Regions from separate parts of the Homo sapiens genome. Here region 2 is linked to region 1. Evidence: fine-mapped expression QTL. A gene starts in region 1. The other region holds a variant in brackets. All regions are shown on one strand. Distances are from middle to middle.

Region 1 (4,395 bases):
CATAGTTAATAAGCTTACCATTCTGCATTATGTTAGGTTCAGGAAAAATCTTGCTTGGCCCATAAAATAAAACTGGAAACAATTTTTCTAAATATTTACTGTTTTCACAGACACTAGTACATGATATATGGATATTTCCCTCTTTAAGAATTGCAAAAGGATACCGGACATGTATCCTAAAGAAATGAAAAAGTATGTTCTCAGAAAATTCTGTACACAAATGTCGATAGCAGCTTTCTACATATTAGCCCCAAAACTGGAATGTCCAAAACAACCTGAATGTCCTTCAACAAGTGAATGGATAAACAAACTGTGGTACATCCACACCAAGGAACACGACTCAGCAACAAAAATGAACTACTGATACACACAACTTGGATGGATCTCAGAGGCTTTATGATGAGTGAAAAAGAGCCAGTCTCAAACAGTTACATACTGTATTATTCTGTTTATCTAACATTCTCAAAAGAACTAACTTACAGAAATGGAGAGCAGCTTAGCGATTGACAAGGCTGGGGTGGGAAAAGAAGTGACAGCAAAGGGGTAATACTAAGAGTTCCTCTGTGGGGAAGGAACAGTTTTGTATCTTTATGTATACATATGACCAAATGTTACAGAACTCACACACCTGAGTGCAAGTAAGAGCTGATAAAATCCAAGTAAGGTCTCTAGTTCAATTAGCATATTCTGCCAATGACGTTTCCTGGTTTGGCAATGTGCTATCGTTATGTAAAATGGTACCACTGTAAGCAGCTAGGGGAAGGGTACATGGGACCTCTGTACTATTTCTGCAACTTCTGGTGAGCCTACAGTTATTTCAAAACAAAATTTTTAAATGGGGGGGAGAAGCTTCCCAAAGAAGCTCTTATGAATAACTGCTAGAAACAACTATGAATAATTGCTAACATGTACACGATACGTTCTATGTGCCAGTGACAACTTTACATGTGCTATCTCCATTAATCCTCACGACAATCTTAGAAAGCTGATTCCTAAGTTATTGCCCCATTTTATAGTTAGGAAAGTGAGCCCAGAAGGAGCAACCAACTTGCCTAAGGTCACCAGGCAAACAAGAGGAGAACTAGCCTTCTACTCAAGCCTTTCTGATTCTAGACTTTGGAATCTTCACCACCACATCGTGCTGTCTCCAAGACAGACGAATTCCATTCTCAAAAGATTGTCAAGGAGTCGGTAAAGGCAAAAACCTTCTTGTTCCTGCTCTGAGGCTACCACAACCGTACAAAATGTTAGCAGACCTCCCTAGCACCCCAGGCGCTCCCCCAACCCTGGGCTCCACTTGGCCACAGCCGCCATCTGGATACCAAAGGCTCCAGGGGCAGCAGATGCCTAACATCGGATACAGGGCTCCAGGCGCCCCGGGGCATCTGGCGAACAGTTGGTTGGCTAGGCCGGAAAAGGGTGGGTGGCTAGCAGGAGGGCACCAGCCTCCGCAGCGGACTCTGCGGCCATCACTTTCCCATCAGAAATGGGGATATTAGTCTACATCCCTGGGGGCGTGGGAGGCGGGGGTTGTGAGGATGACAGCAGGAAAAATCCTTTGCAAAGAGCAGCGCCAAGCGTTGGTTATCTCAGCGTATTATGTTGTACGTACAGGAAGCATTGAGGAGGGAAGGCAGGCTGGACCTCTCCCCTCGCCCCCGCCCCAGCAAGCGCGGGTCTCCAGGCGCCCCCGCGCGGCCCGCGTGGGATGCGCCCTCGGCCCGGGCGCTGAGTGTTTACCTGGACCTGCAGTTCACGCCCTCGCGCACCGGGGCCAACGTCCCCGGCCGGAGCCGCCGCCTGCGGTCCGCCATGGTGGCCCTAGCTTCGCGGCCACCGTCCGGGCTTGGGCGGTGTGTGTGCCCTGCTGCCGCCCCGTTGCTAGGACACCGCACAACCACCGCTGCCGGTATTTGCCCCGGGCGCCTGGCAACTCTGACGCCCCGCTGCGCGGTCCAACCCCTTCTCCGACGCCTGGGGACGTGGACCTGGCCGAGGGAAGGGAGAGGGTACCGGTCCTTGGTGTAATCACGTTTTACTCTGCTGGGAAGGCGTGTTCATCTTCCCACCGAAACGCGCCATAGACTGGATCAGGCGTTTTTTGCTCATCATCGTTTCAAAAAACGTTTACTGAAGGAAAGAAAGGAAGAAGGCAGGAGGAGCGATAAAGAGATAGCAAGAGAAAGAGGATGGAAAGTGGGGAAAATGAATAGATTTCTAAAGGTTGGGAAAGCCTTTTAGCAGGGAGATGTTTTCCTGGAGGTCTTGGAACTCTCTTGGTCTCACAGCCTCTGTAAACCGAGGGCTGCACACCTGTCTCTAGTCCCCAGCTGATTTCCAGAGGCCCTTCCAGCTCCTGTGTTGATTCTTCTGCCTCGACTCACTTCTAGCAGACAAGTACCATCCAGCTGACCCTGGTAGGCACGTGGCCACATAATACGGATTGCACGAGGGTGTGTTTCGTTTTTACTAAATTCTTATGCTACTTCTGAGTGTTTCTGATTTAAATATAAGCATTGGTTCTGCTACTTAATAATTATGCACTCCTGGGGGCAGGGTACTTACATTTTTAAGCTTCATTAATTACCTGGCCTGAAAATGGGGAAAATAATAGTATCTACCTGTAGGGTTATTGGGGATATTCGATGAATATAAAGAAATTAACACAGTGCCAGCATTTAAGAATCCCTCAAGAATTATTATTATGCAAGTACTATTATTCCAGCTGTGAACCGGGGGTGGTAATATTTGTCCTGACTACTTAACAGAGCTGTTGTGAGTTAGTTAATGGAGAAAGCTATGTAGGTAATCATTATAATTAGCCCAATTGTTATTTTTATTTTCTTTGATATTAGTCCGATTGTAATGCAAACTTTTTATTACTTTGAGGAGGTAGGGTTTCTGTAGAAATTCTGTGAGAACTGGGCCAAAAGTATGGTTATCTAGGCTGAATGGAGTCCTGCAGGAATGATTTGTAACAATTTGCCCAAACAATGCTTGATTAAACTAAAAAGCTTCTACACAGCAAAAGAAATAATCAGCAGAGTAAACAGCCCACAGAGTGGGAAAAATCTTTGCAATCTATATATCCAACAAAGGACTAATATTCAGAATCTACAAGGAACTCAAACAAGCCAGCAAGAAAAAAACAAGCAATCCCATCAACAAATGGGCTAAGGACATGAATAGACAATTCTCAAAAGAAGATATAAAAATGGTGAACAAACATATGAAAAAAGGCTAGATATCACTAATTATAAGGGAAATGCAAATCAAAACCACAATGTAATACCACCTTACTCCAGCAAAACTGGCCATAATCAAAAAATTTAAAAAATTAGATGTTGGTGTGGATGTGGGGAAAAGAGAACACTTTTACGCTGCTGGTGGGAATGTAAACTAGTAAAACCACTATGGAAAACAGTGTGGAGATTCCTTAAAGAACTAAAAGTGGATCTACCATTTCATCCAGCAGTCCCACTACCTGGGTATCTACCCAGAGGAAGAAAAGTCATTATACAAAAAAGATACTTGCACACACATGTTAATAGCAGCACAATTTGCAGTTGCAAAACTATGGAACCAGCCCAAATGCCCATCAATCGATGAGTGGATAGAGAAATTGTGGTATATATGTGTATATATACACATATATATAATGGAATAACATTCAGCCATAAAAAGGAATGAAATAATGGCATTAGTAGCAACTTGGATGGAACTGGAGACCATTATTCTAACTGAAGTAACTAAGGAATGGAAAACCAAACATTGTACATTCTCACTCATAAGTAGGAGCTAAGCTATGGGGATGCAAAGGTGTAAGAATGATAAAATGGACTTTGGGAACTTGGGGGGAAGGATAGGACGGGGACAAGAGATAAAAGACTACACATTGGGTACAGGGTACACTGCTTGGGTGATGGGTGCACCAAAATCTCAGAAATTGCCACTGGAGAACTTACTCATGTAACCAAAAAAAAAATAAATAAATAAACAAATAACGGATGCCCAGAAATATTCTGAAGGAGGCATTTTACCGGAATCTCCAAAGGTTGTGACAAAAAGAAGAAAAAGCTGACTACAATTTATATATCAGCAAGCAAGAGGTAGAGTTTCCTAAGATGGCTTTCTATATATTTTCTACAGCTGCAATAATCCTTTTAAAAATATTTAGCAAAATAATATGTTGGCAAATTATCACTCTTAAATAAACAAACAAATAATAAATAAACAATTTGTCCATATGCCTAGGGTTTCTACCAATTCAGGACTGCTTTCCCATTTCTCACCTTAAAGTTCTATTTTTTTGTTTTGTTTTGTTTTCTTTTTTGAGACAGAGTCTCACTCTGTTGCCCAGGCTGGTGTGCAGTGGTGTGATCTCAGCTCACTGCA
Region 2 (4,388 bases), 320 kb before region 1:
ACTAGGTTTGGTAGATAAAATTGGGTACCTACTTTGACTAAAATAAATTCAATGATTATCAGAAATTCAAATTTAATAGGACATCTGTATTTTTAATTGTTAAATCTGGCCACCTTACCTTGTTGTGCCTGTTGAGGGCAAGTGACAGATCTAAATCTCAATTTTATTGAGTTTCAAGCTTGTGTTCATATTTCTTTCTTTCTTTTTTCTTTTTTATTTTTTTTTTGAGACAGTGTCTAGCTCTGTCACCCAGGCTGGAGTGCAGTGGTGCAATCTCAGCTCACTGCAACCTCTCCTCTTGGGTTCAAGCAATTCTCCTGCCTCAGCCTCCCAAGCAGCTGGGACTACAGGCGTGTGCTACCACACCTGGCTAATCTTTTGTATTTTTAGTAGAGACAGGGTTTAACCGTGTTGACCAGGCTGGTCTCGAACTCCTGACCTCAAGTGATCCACCTGCTTTGGCCTCCCAAAGCGCTGGGATTACAGGCTTGAGCCACTGAACCCAGCCTGTGTTCATATTTCATAAGCAGTTGGGTAGCAGAGAAAACTAGTTCAGAATAAATCTCTTCCTACCCACAAACCATAAAGGGGCAAACCCGTACACTGTTATACTGCTAGAGCTGCCCCTAAAACATGCCAATCACTTTTTTCCAGTATATTCAAGATGCAGATATTTACATTTGAACGATCACAATATCCCTAGAAAACAACTCCCAAAATTATGAAATGAGTCTTTAAACTGTATATACTATTAGGATATCTGACACATCCTCTGTCCCTCACCTCCCTGGCCCACCATCATTGACCACTAAGGTTTCCTACTGACTGCACTGGGAATAGTCCTCAGGGGAAGTGTCAGTCACACAGGGAGACCTCAGGATGCCCCAGAACATGCAGGCTGCAGTGGCCAAGGTCAGCCTTTATTAAGATCACTTTCTGCCCATGACCTGAAGGTCCTGTCACCTATCACGGTATACAGTTTGTCACTGAGATTACACCATTGGGAACTCACTCCTTTAGGGTAAGATGTTGACAACCTGCAAAATTGCCCTTTAAAATATGAATAGTAACTTTATTATTCCCGTTGTATGTTAGTGCAAGATTGTATTGTTCTCAAAGGACATTTACTATTCTTAGCCATGTCAAAGATTAGCAAATCATCTCCTAGCAAGGCTCTGAGGGAGTAAGAAATGCAAAGGCAAGTTTGGATGAGGATCCAGGAAAGAGGCAGATATGGAGGAACAATTCTCAGGAAGGAAAGATTTTAGGGAGATTGGGCTGGGGGGCGCAGTATGGAGGAAGCAGAGAGAAGATGGGAGTAGCTTGAGTGCTTCATTAGGATGCTGTTAATAGCAGAGCACAAAGACAAATCTCAACTTCTTCAGAAGCTGTATTTGACCCACGTACAGCCCATCTCACAATGGACACAGAGACTTCTAGATCTATGAATAAGTACTAGTAAGACTAGTACAGAATCCTAACATCATTTATCAGGCTTCCACTATTTGGAAGAGAAATGATAAAATCTTATTGGAAGTCTCAACTATTCTCTTACAAAATAATGAATGTTACAACATTTCAGTATTAATCAGGCATTTCAACCACATAAAATCACAGAACAAACTGTGATTGGAATCAAGCTGTG[G/A]GGTTTTGCTTTGTTTTGTTTTGAAAGGAGTGTAGAAAATGATGAGCTTGTGTTCATGTCTTGGTGCACTCTAACGCCTCTGCCACTTCTCTCTTCTTGCAGTATTGTTTCTCCCATTTCTATTTTTATTGGCATGTAAACTTGCTAATGTCAAATGAGTGAGACAACACGGGAAGGCTAATTTATTTAGTGAACGTGAATCAACACTGCTGGGAAAACAAAAGGGCCCAGTGTGTGCTTTCTTTAAAGCAAAGCAAATAAAAGCATTGGCCAAGCCCAACTCCTCTTCTCCCAGAGGCTGAAGAACCCATATTGGTTCAGGGATTTCAGCAATCACTGAAAACCAGCTCAACTGAACTAGTTTTTACTGATGTAAAAGCTTGGGCTTTTGTATCAGATAGACTGGAGTTTAAATTCACACTTAACACATGTATCCCCTTGATAAGACTGCCCTCTTGCAAGTCTATCTCCTCGTCTGTAAAATAGAGTAGTAATAATCCCTATTACTGGTGTTGTGAGAAATAAATCAAAGAATGAAAATGCTTAGACACCCACCCAAAGCTAACATTTTGAGAGCTTACTAAAATTATTTATTTAAAGATAGCAGGCTAAGTTTGCAAATCAAAAATGATTCCTGTAAGTAGGATCCTAAACTGATAACAATTGGTCCACTTCTTCAGAACTTACTAGGAATCCTATGACTGTGAATGCTCAGTAATCCAGTCCAATCACCTCATGTACATTTAGTGTCAAGTGCCCCCATTCTTTGACCCCATTTCTTAATTTTAGAATGTTAATCCCAAGAAATTTTAATTCTAATACCACCCACGTAGTCTGCACACTTAGGGACTGGGACGGGAATGTGCATGAATTATTACACAGCCCTCACTGTTGCAGGGCTGTCCTGAATATAGCAAAGATAAGTTCGCCTTTTCTGAGCATTTTCTTGAAAGAGCCTAAAATTAAATTTGCAGCTAGATGATGCATTGTAAACCCACAAGTTTGCAAAGAGGAGAAATGCAAGACAGATTAAACAAAACGAAAGAAAACACGGTGAGTCTTAAATTCCTGAACATGAGCTCATGTTTATATTCATTGCTACCTCATGGAGTGACTCGGAGTTTTTGACCTCTGCCCCTGACTTTGAGACAGTGATGGAAAGGTGACGAGGAATGGCAAACAAAGGTTGAAAGGGCCTTGAATCCAAACACGGCTGGATTTTGTGGGGATGCCACCGATTGCACACCAGCCACAGCCCCAGGTTGCATTTTCTCAGGAGTTCCCACAGACTGATGTTGGTCCTCATGCCTCATCAAGTCAGCACAGTTGTTATGAAGGTGTCAGATGTGAAACTGTAAACAGAGTGACATGGAGGCCATTCCTGCTTAGTGACCTGTAGCAGAAAGGTCTATTTTTAGAAACTGCTGCAGGTTGCTCTGCCCTTGGAAAGGTGGCAGGCTGAGAAGTACTGGTGTGCGTGTGTGTGTGTGTGTGTGTGTGTGTGTTTTAACATTTCTGAGCATTTGGGTTGTGTTCTAAAATGTTTCTGAAGGAGTTCACAGAAATAAAAACCATCCCCAAACTTTATTTGAAGTAGAAAATTTGAATTTTGAACTTTACCTATATATCAAGGCCAAGGAAAGGCACGATGCTAGAGACTTTGAAGAATAACCACGGAGTTGCTCAAATGGACACTGATCTCATCCTTTTGTCTCTTACATGGGCCAATGAGGCAGGAAAGATTCATGGGGTTGACCTCACCCAGCCAGAGAAGAGCATGTCCACTCCCTTAGGGCTAGAGGCTGCAAGTTTCAGTGGGTGTTGGCATCTGTTAAAAGGCAGGCTTCCCTCAAGACAGTCTTATGTAGGAAGAGGTACAAAGGATTTGCGAGTTAAATAGACACCACAGCCGTTTTGATGCAAGTTGTCTAAAGACCACACTTTGAGGGGAAAAAAAAAAAACTGTCATAGGAAGAAAACTGGAAAACTAGGAAAACTGGAAAGATGTGTGAGAGAGAGAAGGGAGAATCATCTAACAAAACATGAACATCCCAAATTATCCATTTCCTACCACCAGTAAGAAAGAAAATATAAGATTAAGGCAAAAAGGAGCTCTGGCTTTTGGAGTTTTCTATTTTTATGTATGCCCTGAGAGAGCAGGCTTGGCTGGTGCTAGAAAACCTGACTTCTCTTCCTCATTCTGTGGTTTACTAGACCTGTGACCTGAGGCTAAGTCCTTTCATTTCTGGGTGCTTTGACCTTCATAAAGCAGGCAGCAGTTTCTCCAAAATGACCCCTCTGGAGGTCAGGAGAGGAGCCTTGCCAGTGACCTCTCACCCATCCACCCCGTACTAAAGTTTTATATCCATCGTTATTAGCAAGTCACCTTTTCCCATTGCTTTATTTCCCCCCCTGACAAATTGGATTTCGGTCTAATTTTAGTTTAACTTTCACTGGTGAGAAACGTAAGCCCCAAACCCTCCTCGGTTGGATCTGTTCTTTTACTCATAAAACAGCTAACAGTATGGAAAACTACTTAGTGAAAAATAGAAATGCCTCCATTCAGCACATATATGCTGAGAACTGGTGCCAGCACCTGCTCAATAACTATGGTTGAACTTATGAATGAGATGATTGATAACAGTGTGCCAAACCCAAGGCTGAGTTTTTTTTCTATACACAGGTTGTCTTTATGGCTACAACCTCCATATGAAGTGTGGATGGTTGTCTTTACTTCCCAGAT

What was found. PIP is the estimated chance that this variant, and not a neighbour inherited with it, causes the effect.
Region 2: its variant is the best candidate, but not a certain one, in a credible set for the expression of FAM47E in ileum (GTEx, PIP 0.53).

The regions. Positions count from the first base shown.
Region 1 is chr4:76,249,166-76,253,560 of GRCh38, reverse strand. FAM47E (family with sequence similarity 47 member E) reads right to left here and starts at 1,840. Exons shown (of 8, transcript NM_001136570.3): 1 at 1,741-1,840. The coding sequence starts at 1,814. It overlaps FAM47E-STBD1 (FAM47E-STBD1 readthrough), which reads right to left and starts at 1,840. Exons shown (of 7, transcript NM_001242939.2): 1 at 1,741-1,840. The coding sequence starts at 1,814. It overlaps LOC105377286 (a long non-coding RNA gene), which reads left to right and starts at 1,884. Exons shown (of 3, transcript XR_938897.4): 1 at 1,884-2,453.
Region 2 is chr4:76,568,919-76,573,306 of GRCh38, reverse strand. All of the region lies in intron 2 of SHROOM3 (shroom family member 3), which reads right to left. Among named protein-coding and RNA genes, the nearest start is that of MIR4450, 2.5 kb to the left of the region's middle. The variant G/A (reference allele first, on the strand shown) is at 1,646.